2 separate regions of the Homo sapiens genome follow, and region 2 is linked to region 1. Evidence: fine-mapped expression QTL. A gene starts in region 1. The other region holds a variant in brackets. All regions are shown on one strand. Distances are between the middles of the regions.

Region 1 (5,389 bases):
GAGGAAAACATTACTTGTCGGGCTTCAAATCCAAACCTGTCTCTTTCTGTACTGGACCCTGGCTTCTTGGTAGAGCCCTAACTTTTTCTGTAGGCTTAAAAGCACTAATGCCATAGAAAATTCCTTACCTAACTCCACTTATCCCTCAACTAACAATGACAACTTCATTTTGAGCATTTGGCTACTACTGTTCCCCCTTCCAACATTTAACTGTCATGACAATATTAATGCCAGGTGGCCTATTAGTATGTATCAAACATTCAGCTAGGCAATTTATAATTAACATTTACCGAGCACTTACTATGTGCCAGATACTGTTTGAATGTTTACAACAACCTCATAAGGTAGGTTCTATCATTATCTTTATTTTATGAAGAAACGGAAGCACAGAAAACTTTAATATGCACAAAGCCAAATGGTAAGCGACGAATCCAGCATTCAAATCAGTCTGCATGGTTCCACCACAACTCAAGCTCTTAAACGTTATCATTCCTACCTCACAAGAGAATTTATACAGGGTTTCTCATTTAATCCTCTCAATTCTGTGAGTTAAAGATTATCAATCCCAATTTATAGATGAAGAAATACAGGCTCAGAAAGGTGACGTAATTTACTTAAAATCACACAGCTTTAAGTGGTTCAAGACAAGTTAGTCAAGACTTGAATCCATTTTTGTTTCACACCTCCAAATTGTTAATACTACACTATATCAAAGAAGGATGAAAACTACAAAAAGGCAAGTGAACAATAAAAAGGCACAGGTATCAATCTATGTAGTTTAATATGGTCAGTCACTTTTGAAAATTTCTAGGCTATATACAGGCTCTTCTTCAAACTGTTTATATATAAAAAAAAATGTGACGATAGGGAGAAACTGACAAAAATGGTCTCTTGATGGTCAAGAATAACGGGACAGAAAACCCCACACGTTTTTAAGAACTGTATAATCTTTTACTATGAAACCACAAAATTCATATTTGGCCACAAAATACAGAGACAGACACAAGTAGGCACCATTCTCCTATCTCACAACCACCCCCTCCCACCTCAGTAGATAATGAGAATCGGCTTTATTACTCATGCTCTTCCTCCTGAGAGATCAAGAAACAAAAGCAACATGAAAGAATCCACCTACTTTAGGCTACCCTCTTAAATCTGGTACCATTCTGAAAACAAGCTCATAAACATACATTAAATGTTAGAAGTTATTTAAGATGTTTCTACCAAGAAACAAGTATATGAATGCATTTAACATTCTTTGTCTCATGTGCAGAATGGATTTGCCTTTCTTAAATCAATAAACTTAAAAGAGAGGAAAAAGGCTCAGAAAAGTGACTTTCCTTATCACCAAAAACATCACTGCTTTCAAATGTTTCTCAAGACCCAATTAGACAGTATAACTCCTCTGCAGTTATACACTTTAGTATTTCAGAAAATGTCTTCCGCCAATTATCCATCCAGAGTAAAATTTGTCAATATAATCATGCCTCTCATCATATTCCCTACATAGCCCAGAGGTCTCAGAGAGCAAAACACATTACTGCATCTATAAGAAACACCCATTTCAAAATTACTAGTCCTAGTCAGACAATCAAGCTTACATTCTCAACAATGGAAAAACAAATTAGAAGCAGCCAGCAAGACTGCAGCTCCTTTATACCAGACACATATTTTTTAAAACAAATTATACCAGAGGAAAAAACTGTCATTTGTTAAGTATCTTTTATAGTATTTTGCAGCCCGGTTAAAGGCAGAAGAAAAAAAAATGATCACGCACAAGTCAGAAGTCAGTCCAAAGAATAAGTGTTGTTTCAGGAGGGGGAAAAAAAATCACTTATTCACAGTTGTTCAACAATTTTAAAAATAATCAGTGCTGTGTAGGAAAAGCATTAAATATTTTAACGAGGCCAAAGGGATCATGTAACATGTGAATGACGATCTAATGTGTCCAAAGTGTACAGTGAACAAACAGGTTCCGCTGTCAGCCTCCTAAATGATGTTTTGAAATAGGGTGGAACTTTAAGAAAAGCACTCATCTCATAACATTTCATTAAATTCACTGGGTTTTTTTTGTGAATTGAAAAATAATGAGTTTTTTCCCCAATGCTAGACATAATAAAACATGGCTTGCTTTCTTATAAATGAATCCTGCCACACACCACATCGAGGCTTGAAACGCCAATATACAGAGATGCAGCCCCATCCCCTTGTCCCCCATTTCCACTTCCCCTCGAGTAATTCCTTTCAAATAGCTATTTAAACATGCACAGACGCTATCTGAAATGAAAACTTCCCTCTCATTCCCTAAGCTGAAGAGAGCAGGAATTCCTCAAGAAAGCTGAATCAAGCTCAGTCACCCACAGAACCTCAATCTCTCAAATGCCCCATGTTACCAAAATAAAAGCTGGATACCCTAAGTAAGCAAATCCTTGGACACTTCACATACACAGTAAATAAATAAGCTCACGAAAATAAAAAGGTGGAAAAACAAAGACAACTTAAAAGCAAACCACCACACCCTCAACTCCGCGTTGCAACCGGTCGGCCAGGGGCCTTTACCTTCATTTTCCATCGAAACTGCACTCGGGTTGATGGCTACAAAGTCTTTAGTGTCAGCCACGGCCACACTGGGAATAGAGAGGAGAGGAGGAGGACAAGGAAGAGAAGCCCCCGGAATCCCAGGCTGTCACCCCCGCTCCCGGCCACGCGTCCCACGGCTGCTCCCACCACCCCTAGCAGCAGCATCTGCAAGAGAAACCAGGAGAAGCGGCGCTGACGAGAGGCTGAGGAAGGAGTTCCCCGCCCAGCCACTATCTCGGGAGCCCCCCTCCCCAAGATCCCGCACCCGCCCCGTCGTGTGCCCGCAACGTCCCCAGCTCACGCCAGCGGGGCGGCGCCCTAGAGATGCCCCCCCATCCAGGGGATACCCGAACCTCCCCTTCCTTCAGAACCTGGAAGTTTCTAGAAATGGGGGCAGGAGGTAATACTGGTACCCACCCAAAGCCCCGGACAGCCCTCCTCCAGGCTGCGGGGTCTCAGCCGCGGGGCTCGCGGGGGCGCCCCGCGCGCCTCGGGAGAAGAGGAGCTGCTCGCGGGGCAGCGGTGCGAGGCGGGAGCCTGCTCCCGGCGTGAGAAGAAGCGAGCGGGAGGGAGGAAGGGAGGGAGAGAGGGCGGGCGGGGAGGGGAGAGAAGAGGAGGTGAGGGGACCCGTCACGGTCCGCCGGGCCGGCTCCGCGAGGCCGTGCTGGTCTGCTCCCGCCTCCGACTCCTGCGCTCCGCCCCTCCCCGCCGCCGGCCGCCCAGTCGCGCCCCGCACTCCTGGGCCAGCCGCGAACCCAGCTTTGTCACTATTACTTCCGCTGAGAGAGGTGCGCGCAGGCGCATTCGTGTTCACGGGCTGGGAAGGCGGAAGTGAAGTGAAGGCCGAGACTTCGGCCCGGAATGGACAATGTTTGGGTTTGGATCCGTCCGGTAGGAGGTCGCTCGGGGTTGGTGGCCCGCCTTGTTCTTGCTGGCGCCTCCCTTACCCCAGGGACGGTGTCCGCCCGTTTATATGCACCCCCTGAACGCGAGGGTCGGAGATTCGCCCACGCCCCGTGTCGGCCACGCATTCCCGTGGGGCGGCCGCGGGGTCGGCCCAAGCTGAGAGTCATGGCCGCTGTCCCCGAGGCGTTTAAGCGCTCTCTACAAAGTCTGTAGGGGAAGCTGCTCCCGTCGGGGTGGCAGTCACAATCTCAGCAGGCAACGTTGAGGCCCACGGAAGGAAGGGGCGAGGTGTCCATGCTCCTGCCAGGGACTGGAGCACCGTGAGCAGCCTCCCGAGTCTCGCACTCTCACTTGCAAAACCCTGCACTGACTGCTTGGTTCTTGGGGGAGCCGGTAATCGCGGGGCGACTTCCCAAAATTCTTTAAGGGGTGTGCTTAGTTACCATGTGTAATGAGAGAGCAAGGTTCAGCCTCAGAGAGCTCCAGGGAGAGCTAATCTTTTTCATTCGTTTGTGGTATATGGAACTGGGGAGAGGCTGGAACAGCAATTAGAAACCAGTCGTACAGCTGTCGAAGCCAATGAACGAGCACTTCTTTTAGCAGCTGTACCTTTGTCCAGTGTCAATGCCTTTTCACACGTAAACATTTCACTTGCTCGGCATCTTACCCAGACCCCTAATAAGTGCTTTTTAATGAACGATTGGTTTTAATAAACCGTGGTGAGCCAGACATATAATGTTGAACAGAAGTCCTCTCACACCCATAACCACTAGAGGGCAGGGCTTCACCTACTGAGTTGGTGATCATCCTACAGAGAACTCAAAAGAAAATTTCCGTATATGCTAGATGTGTTTTTCTCCATCAACACTTAGACACTTTACAAATTTGCTTTTTATCTCAGGTCCTGTAACATATCGCAGTGTGCTCTCTAACCACACGTTCAACATCAGAATTAACGGACGGGGTTGCCTGTGTTTCTATATTTGTTCCCAAGTAAGTGGTACTAGACTAGGATTGAAAATTCTGGACAGCTTTCTAGATTTACCTTTCTTTTAAGAAATATTGAACTTTTATTCAGCGAGGTCACTTTTAAAGATGAACCCATAAAAATCACTATCAAGTAGATTTCTAGTCTTAACGAGTTAACTATGATCCACCTCTGGCATGCATGGTCAGTGATTTTTGTCTGCACAATGACGGAGCCAAATTAACGGACGGGGTTGCCTGTGCTTCTATATTTGTTCCCAAGTAAGTGGTACTAGACTAGGATCGAAAATTCTGGACGGTTTTTAGATTTACCTTTCTTTTAAGAAATATTGAACTTTTATTCAGCGAGGTCACTTTTAAAGATGAACCCATAAAAATATCAAGTAGATTTCTAGTCTTAGGAGTTACTATTTATGATCCACCTCTGGCATGCATGGTCAGTGATTTTTGTCTACACAATGACATAGCCTGTGATTTGTACAATGATTGTGATCTCTCGTAATCAATTTGTAACAGTTATTACTGTACATATTCGACCTTGAAACAGCATTATATTAAAAACAAAAGCACCTAAGGTAGGAAATTACACAATATAAATACTTTGATATTAACATATGCATTTACAAAATAGAGGGTAACTGTACAGAATTTGGTATTGGGTCACTTTAGCTGAAACATTTTTCTAAAGCAACTTTTCAGAACTATCTGTTGTATTAATATACTGCAATACTCTAGCATTAACACTGAATCTATAACTCCTCCAAAAGATTTATAGCTCCATGGTTTATTCCTAAAATGACTTAAACTGAAATTTTACTTTTGGTCCCCTAAATTATGAAAATCATTGTTCCTATTACTAAGCCAAAAAAGAAACTGGTAAGATCAAGATCAACTTTACCAAGAAGAATTGACCAAT
Region 2 (5,389 bases), 42 kb before region 1:
GTTTATAGACTATTTTGTTGGTTTCACAGGCATATTTGGTGATGGGTCACATGTGTGTAAGAATCAGACCTAGCAATTTGAAACTAGGCTTTTTATAAAGTTTTCATCCTTTTGTGAGATTTCTATCAAATGTACCTATCATAAACATATTTAATAGTCTCAGCCATAGCATTTAATGTGTATAACAACACTATCTTGTGTAAAATTCCATATTGACTTATGTTAAAATCACAATTTTGTGGTGTTTTTTGAAAACATGGGCTTTCTAGTGATCAAAGAGAACAAGGTACTAAGGTCTTCCATACATAGTGATACTATTTGCAGGAATCCTTCTGAAGTAGGGCACTCCACATATCTGACACATTCTTAAAGACGCAAGAAGGTCCAGTTAGTGGTCCAGTGGGTCATATCACTCACTTGGCTGAATGAATAGCTGCCTTGAATAATGGTTAGCCTGACATGACCTATGCTAGACTAACCAGCTCCACCTGACCATGGGCAACATTTGTCTAAGCAAGAAGATTCCCCTAAAAGCGGAACCCTGATAGTCTACTAATGGAGCTCACAAACCTACTGCAAATGATCTGATTCCAACTGGCTTTCTACACTGGGTTACTACAGAACTAATAACAACTAGGTTAGAGATTACCTTAAGAGGCTGGGATAGTGACAAGAAATACCCACGTAATAAATCGTAGATGTAAGAACAACCATAGTTATTCAAAGTATAGGCTTCAGATTCAAAACAGCACGAACTTCAGGCTTATGCAACAATATTACATTTTTCTCTAAGCTAGAATAATTCTATTCTTGTTAACCATGTTCTAGCTAAAAAGGAAATCTGCTGATATTGTGAAACACTGTTCTAAAATCTACAGAAGTTTCAGATATTTAAATAAACATAAAACTAAGCCTACATTTTTATTTGTCTGTACTTATTAATAGAAATCTTGACAGTATCTCCACATTATTCATAGTAATTTTTAAAAGGGGCTACTTTACATATGTTTTATTTACTGTTTGAATTACTTTGATTCAGATCACAACACCCCTTTTGTGGAGGAATGAGAAATTGTTTTAAAGGGAGGGGAGAGGAGGTCATGCCAACAATGAGTAGAACCATTTTAATTCCTCAAAACAGACTCAAATAAAATAAGGTTAAGTGATAAATTCAGCAAACAAGTGTAGCATTTGGCTAAGGGAATCAGTCACAGAAACCTGTGGAATTTTCTTCAAATGGTACATCACAGATCGACCTTTTAATTCTATACTTTTTTGTTTCATCTAGACTTAGCTCTAGTAGGCATTAAAACATAACAGTGTTATGAAACTATAAACTCTGGTCCAATTTTTTAATTGAAAAAATAAAAAAGTTTACTGCTGGATTTTATTTCTATTACTATGCTTTTTGTTTCCATCTGCTTCAGTTATCCTTAACATTATCAAATAAAAAACTAGATTTTCTTCATCTCACTACCTAAATCAAAGCAGTTCCTTAGTCCCACACCACAAGCTTCCCTGAAGAGTTGTCTGTATCTGAAATTACTTGAAAAACAAAGAATAAGTTGTTCTGATGGGCATTACAACCCCCCAATAACGGTAGGTTCTACCACAAGACACCTTGATTTTTAAGCAATTAACATACCATTTTCATGTTGGCAAAATAGAGTACTTACCTGAACAAAGGCAACTGTAACAACGATAAGTATTGCCTAAACAAAAGAAACAGGCTTTTAAATCAGACATTAACTTGAGAAGTAACTGTTAACTGTATTTTATTTTTCTAACTATCTGCAGTCCCACAATAACAGATTTTAAACACTGAGATCAGCTGGAAAAGAAATCACAACTTTACCTTAAGGCCTGTGGGGAAAGAAGCTAACAGTTTACAGTGGCTTGCCATTACCAGGGCAGCTTCTCTAACTTTTTGATCTCAGGGCCCTTTTATGCTCTCACAAATTGAGGACCAGCTTTTAAGTGGGTTATATATACTGATATTTACCATATCAAATTTTTCAACTAGTCAGTTTTAATTTCTACTCATCAACTCATGTAAAAAATTTTAAACCTCATTACATGCTAACACAAATAACTTTATGAAAAATAAATTTTCCAAAAAAATTGTGAGAAAAATAGCAGTGTTTTAAATTTTTATATTTTAATATATGACTTTCTAGAAAGCTAGTATTCCATTTACTATAACATATTGTTCAGGCTAAAGTGTATGAAGAAAATCCAGCCCCATACAGATACGGTGGAAAAGGGAGGAGCATTTTTTCTTTTTTATTTTTTTTAGGGAGGAGTTTTTTTTTTTTTTTTTTTTGAGACAGAGTCTTGCTCTATTGCCCAGGCTGGTGTGCAGGGGCGTGATCTCAGCTCACTGCAAGCTCCGCCTCCGGGGTTCACGCCATTCTCCTGCCTCAGCCTCCCGAGTAGCTGGGACTACAGGTGCCCACCACCACGCCCAGCTAATTTTTTTTTTTGTATTTTTAGTAGAGACGGGGTTTCACC[A/G]TGTTAGCCAGGATGGTCTCAATCTCCTGACCTCATGATCCACCCGCCTCAGCCTCCCAAAGTGCTGGGATTACAGGCATGAGCCACCATGCCCAGCCTAGGGAGGAGTATTTTAACAGCTTTTTCAGATGATTGTGGATATTCTTCTTAGCTACTACACCAAAACTCAAGTGCTAGTTACTTAAAGGTAATCTGCAATGTAGAATATAAAACTGTATCAATGCACCTTTCATAATCTATTATATCGAAATCCATTGACCTATCTTGCATTTGAATGGATCTTTTACCATTTCAGATTTTGTAATGTCACGCATTGGTCTTCTGGGAAATATTGGTTCACTTGGTTATTCAAATCTTCCCCAAGATTGCCCAAATCTTCCCCAAGGTTACCACATTTCGTAACAATTTTTTTTTTAAAAAAAACACACATTTGTTGAAATCACTACTGATCTAATTGGAATAAAGTCTTAAATACTGGGATGCTATCCAGCCCATAAGAGTGCATACAAATTTTCCAAAACCCTAATTATTGCTTGAAAACCTGAATTTTATCATTAGCAACAAATTCTGCCAGTTGCCTTTCCTTGGTCTGATTCGCTCATTTAATTCACTTTCAAAAATAAGAATCTGCTGGTTACCCAAGTCCTAACACCCATAGTTTGTCTATGAGTCAGTCTTTCAAGTACAAGGCTAGTTTGCCTCACAATCATCACCCTTCCTTGAGACAACCATTGTATTTCAATATACAAAAGAGTTTCATGCATACTTCCCATTTCATTACATAAATTATTATGAAGGTATGTACTCAAGGGTCCAGATTTAATAAAATTAATTTTTACTGCTTTATCAAGAACATTCTTAAGAAACATGAAAGAAAACAATGACTGTTAACAAAGTTGGGTGCCATTACTCTGAATTGTGCTAAGGCTCTAACAGTTTCACCTGCCATTGTTTTTGTGCCATTAATGCCAAAAGTCTATAATTGAAAGACAAATAATGTTTTAGTATTATTAAAATGGTTGTGACCTCACATACCCCTTGAACAGGTCTCAGGGATACCTGGGATACTGCAAGCAATAGTTCAAGAGCTGCATCTCTACAATAACATCTACAGTGTTCTTAAGCATAAGTGCTTTTACTTGCTACAAATTTTTTATACAAAAATGAAATGGAGCAAGAAGGAAAAAGATGAGAAAACAGTTCAATGAAAGCTAGAATAACCTAGCTGGAAAGAATAAAATCATATATAGTAAATGTATGCTGTAAATACAGCATGCACTATAAGGAATATTTTTAATTTCACATGTCAGGCTTTAGTTCACAACTAGTCAAAATATATTCTCAACTGCAAAGTGAAATAAATTTAAAATTTAATCAGATAATTATAAAATTTCATATTTGTGAAAATTACCAGTTAAAGAATTTTCATGTGTGCTAATCATGGACTTTTGAACATTACTCAAAATTACTGTAACTATAATAAAAGCAGAATTTGAGCCAGGCACAGTGGCTCACACCTGTAATTTCGACACTTTGGGGAGGTCAAGGTGGGAGAATCACTTGAAGCCAGGAGTTTAAGACCAGCCTGGGCAACATAACAAGACCCTGTCTTTACAAAAAAATTTTAAAATTGCTGGGGGTGTTAGCATACACCTGTAGTCCCAACTACTCAGGATGCTGAGGCAGAAAACAGCTTGAGCCCAGGAGTTCGGGGCTGCAGTGAGTCATGACTATACCACTGCACTCTAGCCTGGGCAATACAACAAGAAACTGTCGCAACAAAAAGAATAAAATAAAAGCAGAATTTGGACACTGAAAAAAATCTGAGAGCACTTCTCAATTTATTTTCCAAAATAAAAACCAATCCCAATTTATACACTTACTCAACAGATTAAAAATATGTAATTTTTTTCTTACCACAGTGATACTGACGGCATCATCAAACTGATGCATTAAAACACTGATGACTGCAGAAGCCAGAAGCAGCATAATAAGGGGATTTTTAAACTGAAAGTAAAAACAAACAGCAATTCAACACAGTTTTGTACATGACAGTTCTCTCAGCAAAGGCTTTAAAAAAAAAAAACCATAAGAGCATGACTGGAAAATTACAAAAGTCTATACTCAGTTTATTTTATGTATCTCTTCAATTAACAAAAAAAGCGTTTATACTTAACTACATTTAAAAGCTTTTTAACAGTTCCTTTTCAGAAAAAAAAAATTAAATAGCAATACTTAAAACTAAGAATTAACCAATTCCTTATAGTATACAGCAATTTTTGGTATATTAATTTAAGAAATACAGCTGTTCTGAATTTCTACTGAGGCTAGAAAAAGCAGGAGAAGATGATTTTTAAGCTAAAAATTTGGGCGAAATACTGAATAGAACACTGAGATTCAAACATTTCTCAAGTACAATGGTGTAGATTACAATTCTGTGGTTGACTCACATATCACAGAAAAATTCCCTCCTCTCCACAAAAGAAACTGAAGATTTTCCTCAAGGCTAGCTTTCCTGGTTTCTATCTACCACAGCAAATCATATCAAAGAAACAGGACTATAGCATCAACCTGATCAGAAAGCATTTAAATGACCTCACACCAGAGTCAACCCCAAATTCTTCCAGTTGGACATTCTATTCCTTGAAACTCTGATGTTAGAATCTCTTCCTCTGCTAAAGTGTTACATCACTGTCAAAGTTGCAAAGTAATTAGGCTAAAAAGAATCCATCCCACCAGAAAGCCCCAGCCCTTAGATACCATAGCTCTGAGGTTACATGCCACCACCTCCAAAGCCCCTTTATGGTTCCATTCCCTGGAACAAGTCCCAATCCTTCTTCACATCGGAATCCTATAAGAAACTTTTAACAATACCAAT

What was found. PIP is the estimated chance that this variant, and not a neighbour inherited with it, causes the effect.
Region 2: its variant is fine-mapped to the expression of ATP2C1 in whole blood (TOPMed, PIP above 0.99).

What each region holds. Positions count from the first base shown.
Region 1 is chr3:130,891,946-130,897,334 of GRCh38, reverse strand. It overlaps ATP2C1 (ATPase secretory pathway Ca2+ transporting 1), which reads right to left and starts at 3,251. Exons shown (of 28, transcript NM_001378687.1): 1 at 2,998-3,251; 2 at 2,560-2,745. The coding sequence starts at 2,565. It overlaps LOC107986023 (a long non-coding RNA gene), which reads left to right and starts at 3,414. Exons shown (of 3, transcript XR_001740492.2): 1 at 3,414-4,479. RefSeq lists a silencer at 2,997-3,386 and an enhancer at 3,477-3,696.
Region 2 is chr3:130,933,751-130,939,139 of GRCh38, reverse strand. It overlaps ATP2C1 (ATPase secretory pathway Ca2+ transporting 1), which reads right to left. Exons shown (of 28, transcript NM_001378687.1): 5 at 4,429-4,518; 6 at 1,677-1,712. Among named protein-coding and RNA genes, the nearest start is that of ATP2C1, 42 kb to the right of the region's middle. The variant A/G (reference allele first, on the strand shown) is at 2,512.